Linked DNA regions of Homo sapiens: region 1 is linked to region 2. The links come from fine-mapping of genetic effects on gene expression. A gene starts in region 2. The other region holds a variant in brackets. All regions are shown on one strand. Distances are from middle to middle. Region 1 overlaps CYP4B1 (cytochrome P450 family 4 subfamily B member 1). Region 2 holds the start of CYP4X1 (cytochrome P450 family 4 subfamily X member 1).

Region 1 (5,369 bases), 210 kb after region 2:
ATAGCACCTGGCATGTGTCTGGATACCCCGTGGGGGGGGGATTCTCACATATGACCAACAGAAATGGTAATGGAGGCTTCATACTCCAGGTCCTAGACCCTGGAGTTATAGGTCAGTCCCTTTCAAGTGGATCTAAAGTTCCCCCTCTGGCTCAGCATTTTCTGTACCCCTGCTGTGTGCCTAGCCCCCTCTTGGAGGCTGCTCAGGAGCCCAGAGAGAAAGGCAGGTTGTCTGACCACAAGCAAAGGCCTGAGGGGAACAGGCAGCCAGCAAGGGTGAAGGAGCCTCTTGAGAGACTCCCAGAGATCACACTGCAGAGAGGTCAGGGTCAATCCTTAAGTGTTTAGGAGTTCAGTCTTGAGCCAAGAAACAGGGGAAAACAATGGAAAGTTTTTAAGTGATGAAGTTTGGGGAAGTCTTTTCTCCTTCACCAGCAGGAGAGATATGGCATCTGGAAGCTGAGTATTGCCATCCAAAGGCAAGTAGCAAGGAACTGGCTCTCCCAGCTGTCTCAGCTCTGTTCACCCCCACATTTCCACCTCTTTCTCTCCCAGCTCTCCCTACTCTATCCAGGGACCCAGAAGGGTAATCAGGTTCTACCGTCAGAAGAAGTTAGCACACAAAATATCAGCCTCTTGTTGACAACTTTCTCTACATAACACTTCTGAAAGGCTCCATTTTGGGAGAATGGGCTCAGGGGTGCATCTGTGCCCAGCCAACCACTCTCCCCACCCCCCACCACCACAAAAGGTATGACACTGGGGGTAACAGGATAGCAGCCGCCACCTCACCTGATTTCCAGGATGGTTCAGGACAGGATGGGCATCGCCCTTCCCAAGGGCTGAGCAGGATAAACCGGGCCCACCCTCAGACTCACCACTGGAAGAAGTCCTGGTCCCCTAGGATCTCGCGGACCTCCTCTCTACAACGATGCTGGTGCTCAGGGTACAGGGCCATGCAGTAGAGAAACCAGGAGATACCACTGGTGGTGGTGTCATGGCCTTCAAACATGAATGTGTCCACTTCAGCCCGGAGGTCTGCATCTGACAGTTTGATGTCATCTTCATCCTGGGTTAGGGAAGGCATAATAGGACAGCTTGAGGTATTGGAGGTGGGTAACAAGAAGAACTCATAATGGTGGTTGTCAAATGAAGGTCTCTGGGAGGGAGTGAAAGCTCCTTTTCAGAGGGTGGATTAGGACCTTCCCCCAGATTCCTATATTCCTTCAAAGCTCAGCCTGGATGCCTCCTCCTCCACAAAGCCCTCCCTAAATGCTCTGGCCAAATGACTTGTGACCTTGTCCAGCCCTGACTGTTCTGCTCACTGGGCACATAGAATACCACCTGCCAGAGGAAGACATTTTGGTCAACATCTACCTACTGTCTCCCCTGCTGGACTGTAAGCATCTGGAAGGAAGGGCCAGGTCTTTCCCATCTCTGCATCCTAGCACGGAAATGACCCAGAGTCAGAACTCAGTGAGTTTCTAGAATTGATGAATAAAGAACTTACTGAATGAATGAATGAATGAATGAAGTCTAAGATTCTAGGATTCTACAAGGCCAACATTTTGGGGGATCTTAGAAGTCTAGAAATGTCGTCCAGCCACTACCACGTGACCTAGGCTCCCAACTCCACAGCTCAGGCACACACACCCTACACCTGCCCACCTCTGAACCCCTGCTAATATGTTTCATGGGACGAGGAACAGGTTATATTTGCTGAGGAAAGGGGGAAATGCTTAAGAGCTCCTTCTGCTGTCCTGGGAGGATGGTTGAAGACCTCTCTGGGACCAGTCCTCAGGTAGGGGTGGGCAACAATGTACTCACCCGGGCACCCAGGAGAATGTCCAGGAAGTCCAGGTGCCTCCGGTTCTGGATCTTCTTCCGCACCTTCTCATCCTGCAGGGCTGCCTTCCGCTCCCTGATGACCTGGTCTGAACCAAAAGCACAGAGTGTCACTGCCTGGGAAGCCATCTTTTGTCCAAAGGGGAACTGGGGTCCTATAATGGGAGGGGGCATAGAGGGGCCAGGAGGAGGAACCCAGGCTTCCTAGAGGTGAGCCTTGTGGGAAAGGCCCACCTGTATGGTCATGGGCCACCTGGCAGGCCCGCAGGAAGCGGCGGCCATGTGGGGTGAGCCAGTAGATGAAGTCATTATGGTACTGGAAGGACACAAGGCGCTGCTGCATCAACAGAGTGAGATCGCTGACTGCAAGGTAGTAGCTGCTGTCCCTGCTAAGCAGAGGGTAGGAGGAGGGATTGGCTTAGACACTGGCCCAGGAGCAGAGCCAGAGAAACTCCATTCCAGGAATCTAGCCCCAACCACAGAGCATCCTGCTCTTCTTCTCCCTGCCCTTAAGCCTCCTTGCTAAAGCCAGGTGTTTACCCCACCATGAGCAGGTCCTGTCTCCCCGCAAGCTAAGGCTCCCTGGGGCAGGACCCTATCTCTTCTCAGATCAGAGCCCAGGACCCCTGCCAACTCTCCCCTCTAAGATGGCTTTGGAGACAGTGCGGTCAGCCCCGAGGTGGCTCCTGACCTGTGGCCCAGGCCGGTGTCTCCTCTTCCAAAGGTGCACTTCATGAGTGTGTTCAGCGCCATGTGACCCACATCGCAGAAGATGTCAAAGGACTTACCCTCCCGAGCTTTCTCTTCCCACTTGTCCTGGAGTCCAGGGATAGGAGGCAATGTGTAGGAGGCGATGCAGGGGTTAGTTGGGCTGGATGCCCCAAGCTGCCCTCCAGGACCCGTAGCCTATCCTCCACCACCAAGCCCCCTTCACACACTCCCAGTCCCTGTCCTGCCCTCCATCCTGCTGGAATATCAGGATAGGGTGGGTAGAAGTTTGGAAGCCTCTGGGCTTCAGGCTCAGAGGGCAGGACCAGGAGGCAGATCTTGCACAGCACACAGACGTTTTCTCCCAGTCAGGGCAGCCTATAAGGGAGTAGGATGGCTGAGAGGTGGTGAGCTCCCCCGCATGGTGTATATGTAAGTAATCCTGGAGGGGAGTTTCCTACAAGGGGAAAGACTAGCCTGGATAACTTAGGGATTACCCAGCCCTAAGACTCTAACCCTGACCTCTGACATCCCTCTTAGAGATGAGTTGTATTGACATAATTCTGGGCAGCTGTGGTAGACAGAAAATGAGGAGACAC[G/T]TTTTAGATGTGAAAGCCTTTCCCCATACTCTCAAATATAGGCAGTCCTCAAACCTGCTATGCTAGGAGCCTTATTAAGTTCTCACAGAGACCCTTTGGCCTGGGAGGAAAGAGGGCTGGGTCTCCTGGTGGAGACAAGGATCGGGCTGCCAGGACACTTAGAGATTCAGCACCGACTCAGTGGCAGCCTGCGGCACATGTCAGTAGAGCAGGGCTTTGGCACTGCTGTTGCAGGCAGAACAGGCCTTGGGGCTCAGCTATTCTCCTTACTGCAGAGCACCACCTACTCTCCCCAGGACAAAATCAGGGTGGAGAGGGGCTAGCCCAGCAGGCAACAGCCTCCAGTACTCTGGCACAGGGAGCTCACCAGCATGATACGTGTAGACTCAGTGAACACGGCCACATAGGGCTTCAGCACATCATAATGAAAGCCAGGTGTGAGCAGCTTGCGGTGCTGCAACCACTTGGGCCCCTCAAGAACCAGCAGGCCTCTCCCTGGGGAAGGGATGGGAGAGAGAGGGCTGGTCAGTCCAGGCCCTGGCAGCCTGGGGCTAAGCACATCCTACACGACTCCATCCCTGAGCCTGGAACCCTCCAAGGGTGGGCCACTAAGCGACCCAGTATTGCCCTCCATGCCCTCACCCTAGGCTACCAGGACCTCAGGAGACAGGTGGCAGCAGTTCTTGGCTGAGTGAGCTCCTTCCTTAGGACAGGATAACTCAGTTTCTGTATCTCAGCTGCACCCACAAAGCCTGGGTCCAGGAACTTGTGTCAGATGACATTGCCAGATGTGAGACAAAGGACACGCATCCCCCTGGGGACAGCCAAGCAGAGGGGGAGCCTGCTGAGCCTTGACTCTCAGCTGCTGAGACTGGCCACAGCTTCAGGACTTAGGGAATGTCCCACCGTGTTCGTGCTTCATGGCCTCAGGTGGGACCCTTCCTACCCCACTCCAACACACCCAGCAATGGAAATGCATTCCTGTCTTCAAAACCACCTCTTCATTTTCCTAACCCTTTTCTGTCTGCCTTCTAATTTTATCCTCCCATTGATAACTAAAAAGAGGGTTAGAAGCAAAAAGTCTTCCCAGTGGTACTCGGTGAGTAAATAGGATTGGGAATGTGTTCTCCCTCTTGGCCCTGCCCTTTCTCAGCTCCCAGGAAAACGCTGAAGACACCATAGGATCATGAGTAAAAGAGGAGCTTTGGAGAAGCATATGGCCTTGGCTAAAGAATACTCAATGGCTTTAACTTGAGTACCTCTGTAAAGGAAAAAGTAAAATAAAATAAAATAAAATACTCAATGACTCCCACCTACTCTCAACATCAAATCACCTCCTTATCCTGGCAGTCAAGGCTGGCCTGTCCTCCCTGCCCAGCATCATCTCCAAGCTGGGCTCTGCCTTGTAGCCACCCCGACAGCCTCACAGCCTCTGGTGACCAGCCGTGGTCCTACCACCACACCATTTCCTTAGGCCCTTGCCCTGGCCAGCACTACCTATTTAAATCTCCTTTTGGATCAACTCTAGTGCCACCTCCTTCAGGAAACTGTTCTTCGCACTCACACATTCTCCAAAGCCTTTGCCCTGTCTAGAGAATCAGGCCCTGCCAGAGAAGATGCCTTGGCCCCACAGCTGGGGGCTCTCCTGCTCCTCCCTTGTCTCTCCACTGAGCAGCTGAGCTTAGGATGGGCACCCGAGAACTAGGCCATCTGGGATAACCAATTGAGTGGGACAGGCCAGGATCCTAGTCACCCAGCACCACGGGTCTGAGGTTGGCAGGGCAGGGAAGGCAGGTGCTCACTCACCAATCCACTGGAGGAAGAAGTCATACACATCAGGGGCCTTAGGGTCTGCAGGAGGAGACAATCAGGTCAAGCAGGGACCCGGGGTTCCTAGAGGAGGCTCATTTATGAGTAGGGTGGGAACCTCAGCTCCGCAGACTTAGTACACAGGCCCAGGCTTCCTCCCCATATCATGCCCTGAGCCCTTTGTTCTCAGGAAGCCCCACCCTCTCCTGAGATCCCCATCCTCTCTCCTCACCCCCACGGCTGTACACAGCTTTGGCATAGTCAGGCTCATAGATGTTCAGGAAGCCAATGAACTGTCCGAACCAGAGTGGGTGGGCATACGGGAACTGGTGGGCCCAGGACACCACTTTGTCCAGGCTCCCCGTCTCCTGGATCTGAAATGATGACAGAAGGCCAAGGTCACTCAGGA
Region 2 (5,369 bases):
ACAATTCAATTAAAACAACAGACGACATAGTATTCATGAGACAGTAGAGATACATAACACAGGATAGCATCAATGGGGAGTCCTAGAACAATATCTGCATACCAAGCTTAAAGAACAACCAGTCCAGACTGGAACAGGAGGAGAGGTCTGTGGCAAAAATATCTCCAAAAAAACGAACAGATTTGGCATGTTTGCATATTTGGAAATATTATTTAGATGTGTTTGACAGATCTATTAGAGGATTTGGAAAAAAATAGTGACAAATATTGAAAAATGAAGCAGATTAGAAAAGGAAGAAGTTAACAATACTGTGGGGGTGGGGAAAAGTTCTATGAGAAAAGAAATAAAATGAAAGAGGACCATTTAGATCAGCAGTAAATAACATTTGCATAATAAAAATAATACAAATAGAAGTTTTTCTATTTAAAAAATACAATACTATATAGTTACTGGGACAGTGGAATATGAAGTGTAAGTGATTGCCTGTCATAAAGAAGTTCATAGGTGGATGTTGTCTTAGTACATTTGTGTTGCTGTAAAGGAATACCTGAGGCTGGGTCATTCACAAAGAGGATTATTTGGGTTACAATTCTGCAGGCTGTACAAGAAGCATGGCATTGGCATCTGCATCTGCGGAGGATCTCAGACGGCTTCCACTCATAGTGGAAGTGAACAGGAGCAGTTGTGTGCAGAGACCACATGGTGAGAGACAGGAAGAGAGAGGGGAGGAGGTGGCAGGCTCTTTTCAACAATCAGTTCTGGGGGTTGAAGAGGGACTAAGAGAGTGAGAACTTATGAAGGAGACAGCTGCACCAAGACATTCATGAGGGATCCATCCCAATGACCCAAAGATCTCCCATCAGATCCCACCTCCAACATTGGGAATCAAATTTCAACATGAGGCTTGGTGGGGACGAACAAACCATATCTAAACCACAGCAGATGTCTAAACTTATTAAATTAATAGATGCAATATGGTAATACTATTTTACAAATAAGTATTTAAATACCAGAAGAAACCGATAAAAGAGTTGAAAGTGGTTGCTTTATATAAGAAAGACTAGAAAGTGGGGAAACCAAAGGATCGTGTAGTAGCTCTGCTGGAATGCCTTCCCCACACCACCCAACCATCCTTTAAGACTCTGCTCAGCCCTTCACAGACTTTCCTTCCTTCTCTAGGCGGAGATGTATACTTTCCTCCGACAGATATTCCCTTGTCTCTAGGCCTCTAGTAAAGCACCCATTGCCTTAAATTTTCATTTTCTCTCTGTGGCCTAAGTCTGCACCTGACTTGGGTGGTGCAGGGGAGGGACTTAGCTTCTCTTTGTAATCTTAGTACCTATCACACAATTGCCACTCAGAGTCGGTTGAATGAATAAAAACCTTAATTAGGGGTGGGAGTGGATTTAAAAAACGGGAGAGACCAAAAGCTAACAGTCTCCCTTTACAAATTTCCATCAATCAGTATTTCTCGAGTGGCTGGCTGGGGCTGCTCCTTACTTCACAAGAATCTTAGGAAAAGAAAATTTTCTCTTGTTAAAATGGACTAAGGGTGCCAACGATTGGGATAGATTTTGCATATTTTCTGCAACTAATAAGTTATTTAGAATAACATGCTATTTTTAAAGCAACACATGTGGAAGGCTTGGTGAAGCAATGAGAGACAGACTTGAGTTACAGCTCGCTTTCTTTTTCCATATTCAGGTTCTTTAAATAGCTCTCTCCCAGCCCCCAAAGCTTCCTCTTTTGTGACCTTTCCCTGTGGGGCTGCGGGAAAGCAATTCTCCAGAGCAAGGAAAAATGATGCTAAGAGCCACAGGCCGGGCTGGAAAGGCCAGTGCAAGCCGGAGGGTCCCCAGGGATGGAAGAAAGCTGCGTCTCTCTGCCGGCTGGGCTCCTCTGCCGCATCCTCCTCCGCCCCTCCCTCCTCCTTCCTCCCTCCTCCCTCCCATCTACCTTCTGGTGCCCAAGGAACCAGTGGGTGGGGGGCGCTGGGAAGGGGCGCAGGTCCCGCAGCAGCCGCTGCCTCCGCAGGTACAGCTTAATGGCCTGCAGCAGCCCCAGGGCCAGGCAGAACACGAACGCCAGGTAAAAGGGCCGCGCCCAGCGCGTCTCCAGCCAGGAGAATTCCATGGCTCTGCGCAGCGCCGAACGCCGGCGGTTTCCTGGGGCGCGGGAGAGGGTGGGCTTTCTCCCGCCCGGAGCTGGCGTAGGGTCGCCCACCCCACCGCCTCTCTGGGCCCTCGCGAAGCTTCTGACTCGCGGGAAGAAGGAAAGGCAGTGGGAGGGGCAGCTCAGGCCTGGGGAGAGGAGGCAGGCGCGCGTGCGGGATTTCTAGCCGGTTACCAAAGCGCGCACGCTTCGTTCGGCCCAACTGCTTTTGCGCTCCTGGAGCGTCCTCTTTTAAGTCCAACAGTTTTCAGTCACGGGATCTGAATTTATATTGTAAAATAATGCTAAAGCTGAGGTCATTGTTTTTCTTCCTTATCACAAATTATAAATGGCTATGCAAGAGATTTTCTTTTCCATTCTGGCATTCTACCAAAATTCCCAGGTGGTAGAGGTAGGGGGAGGTGTACCATCATTATTCCTTTATCCTGTGGCCTGCCTAGTGGTGTTCCGGTAAATGGTTTACAACTGATTCCCACCCTGATTCCCAGCGTGTACCATGAGCTAGTTCAAGCTGCCGATACGAGGGCACTGAACACTGAACGGGGAAGATATGCACAGTAGCGTACCATCATATAGTAATTCCACTATACAGGTACAGTCAGGGCCTGCTATATAATTTATGAATCTCAGTGCAAAATGAAAATGCGGGATAAAAACTTTATTAACAATTCTAAGATGACAGACCATTAAACCGAGCATATGCTCTTCTGGGTTCAGAGCCTCGTGTGGCTGCTTGGGTCTCATGCCCATGAAGGGCTGACTCTAGATGCCAGAAACATAAATAAACTCGAGTACAGATAACAGGAAAATGTAGTAAAAATAATTTGAAAGTGATGGTTTTAGTATTTGTAACGTATCAGGTGGTGAACTAGGATCTAACAAGCCTGACTTCCCAAGCTGGTGTCTCCCCCCACCTCCCTGTCCCAGCAATCTTTATAGGCATTGCCCACATTTCATTCATTTATTTATTCATTCATTTATTCATTGATTTAGGCTAAGACAGGCATATGTTAAGTGTTCATTGACAGCTCTGAACAATAAACCCAATTTCTGCTACAATTCCCTGTTCTCCCTATCACTGTCCCTCCCCCACCTTCCCCGCCCTTCCGCCCCCAATTCCTTAAGCCTACGCTCCACTCTCTGGAGCCAGATTTTATTTGGCGGGTAAGTGATTAAGACAGGCTCCAGGGGGCCGGGCGCGGTGGCTCACGCCTGTAATCCCAGCAATTTGGGAGGCCGAGGCGGGCGGATCACGAGGTCAAGGGATCAAGACCATCCTGGCCAAGATGGTGAAACCCCATCTCTACTAACAGTACTAAAATTAGCTGGGCGTGGTGGCGCGCGCCTGTAATCCCAGCTACTCAGGAGGCTGAGGCAGGAGAATCGCTTGAACCCGAGAGGCAAAGATTGCAGTGAGCCGAGATCGCGCCACTGCACTCCAGCCTGGTGACAGAGTGAGACTCCGTCTCAAAAAAAAAAAAAAAAAAAAAAAAAAGACAGGCCCCAGGGGTGGTGACTTCATCTGGACCAAGTTCGTCCTGGCCCCTTGCATGTTCCATTAAGCCACACACAGCAAGTGTTTCAGCTCCTTCTTTCCCAGACTTCCCTACCTCCTACCTAACTCCAACCTTCAACTAGATGTTGTTATTTGACAGGGTCTCAGAATCCTCTGGCTTACACAGCTTCTTCTGGGTAACTCATGGCATTTCAGCTTTTCATATGATTCCTCTATGCCCTATTCCTCCCCCAAATCATGATGGTTGTATGATGGCCCTCATATGATCGCATGGTGGTAGGGCCAAAGACCTCAGATCCATGCTCTGCCCCAGAGCTGAAACTTCAGCTTTGTGATATCTTGCCTGGTCCGGTCCCTGGGTTCTTCATGAGACCGAGGAATAGTATGTGTGGTTGGTGACCTTCTAATGAGTTCTCTTGGCAGGGTCAGAGCCTGGGAACCCCTTGGCTCACCTACTCCCACCCAGGTTCTTGCTGGTGGTGTGACTCCCTCTGAGGCTTGGACAGTTCTATGCAGTTACTCCTCTGCTCCAGGGCCAGTTGCCCCTGTCCAGCACCGTTCCATGTGCTTTCATGGGTAACAAAGGAACTCTGGAACTTTTTGCACTATATTTAGGAGCCTAAGAGAGGCTGGAAGGTGTTGAAGAGGCTTGAAGTTCAGGCCTTCTCTGCTTCACTGCCATTTTCACTCTGGTTTCTCCAAAAAAAGATGCAAGGTAAAATCCCCTGTGCTCTCAACTTTCCTTTCACTCTATCTAAACCCCAATCCCAGGATTTTAGCCTAGAGGGGGATAATTAGATACTCTCTTGACCACCCGACCTCTGCCACTTTTTGCCTCAGTCCACCAGGCTGCAAGAGGTGGGTTTTCCCCACAACCTCCATTTCATGTGGTAGAAAATATCCTTATGTTATTGCTTGTGTTTTTGCTATCCCTGGTGGAGAATAAAGTTCTGTAATCTACTCCAACAGGGCAGGCTAATGGGAGAGAAAGGAATTTAGAAAATTATTTATTCTGGCCAAAGACTGGCTTTTGATACTTGCTACAACTCAAAAATATGATTCTGGAGGCCAAAAACAGAGCAGCGCCTCCTTCCTTTTTTTTTTTTTTTTTTTTTTTTTTGGCATTCCTGCACAAATATCTACTGAATTGAATTTTCTTGGCTACAGTACAGGGAATTGGAGATACCAAAAAAAATCCCATCAACCTGGATAGTGGTGCCTCTAGATGGAAATAAGCCCCATGAGACTCCCAGAAGGAGGCCTGTGCCTCTCCCAATGCTCATCTGATGGCTCCTTCCATCTCAGACACAAGAGACAAGAAATGAAGGCCAATGAGTAGCTGCTTCAATCCTACACACAGCCCAAAGAAAAGCATACATTTGTCTACAAACAGGGCAGTGCAAGGTAACTAACCTTTGACCGAAATTATAATAATTCAGTATGGCAATCTATATTTTTGATCCATTAAGATGTGGAAGTCTATTATTACTTAATAATAAATGAATTTTAAGAACATGGAACCATGGGGATAAAAGTCTAGAATTTTGTGGAGCTGTATCCCAGGATAGCATTGCAGCCCACCAATGTGGGATTCCAGAGATTCACTGCTCTCTGATTTGCTCATGTGCTCAGTTAGTAAACATGGGTTGAACATTTACTGTGTCCCAGGCCCCTGTGCTGG

The links. PIP is the estimated chance that this variant, and not a neighbour inherited with it, causes the effect. A credible set is the group of variants that fine-mapping cannot tell apart.
Region 1: its variant is the best candidate, but not a certain one, in a credible set for the expression of CYP4X1 in unexposed skin (GTEx, PIP 0.70).

Annotation. Positions count from the first base shown.
Region 1 is chr1:46,810,773-46,816,141 of GRCh38, reverse strand. CYP4B1 (cytochrome P450 family 4 subfamily B member 1) reads right to left here. Exons shown (of 12, transcript NM_001099772.2): 2 at 5,193-5,334; 3 at 4,958-5,002; 4 at 3,519-3,646; 5 at 2,536-2,660; 6 at 2,079-2,233; 7 at 1,827-1,933; 8 at 878-1,068. Among named protein-coding and RNA genes, the nearest start is that of CYP4B1, 14 kb to the right of the region's middle. The variant G/T (reference allele first, on the strand shown) is at 3,152.
Region 2 is chr1:47,020,582-47,025,950 of GRCh38, reverse strand. CYP4X1 (cytochrome P450 family 4 subfamily X member 1) reads right to left here and starts at 2,282. Exons shown (of 12, transcript NM_178033.2): 1 at 1,957-2,282. The coding sequence starts at 2,133. It overlaps LOC124904172 (a long non-coding RNA gene), which reads left to right and starts at 3,688. Exons shown (of 2, transcript XR_007066062.1): 1 at 3,688-4,403; 2 at 4,856-5,369. RefSeq lists an enhancer at 1,488-1,988.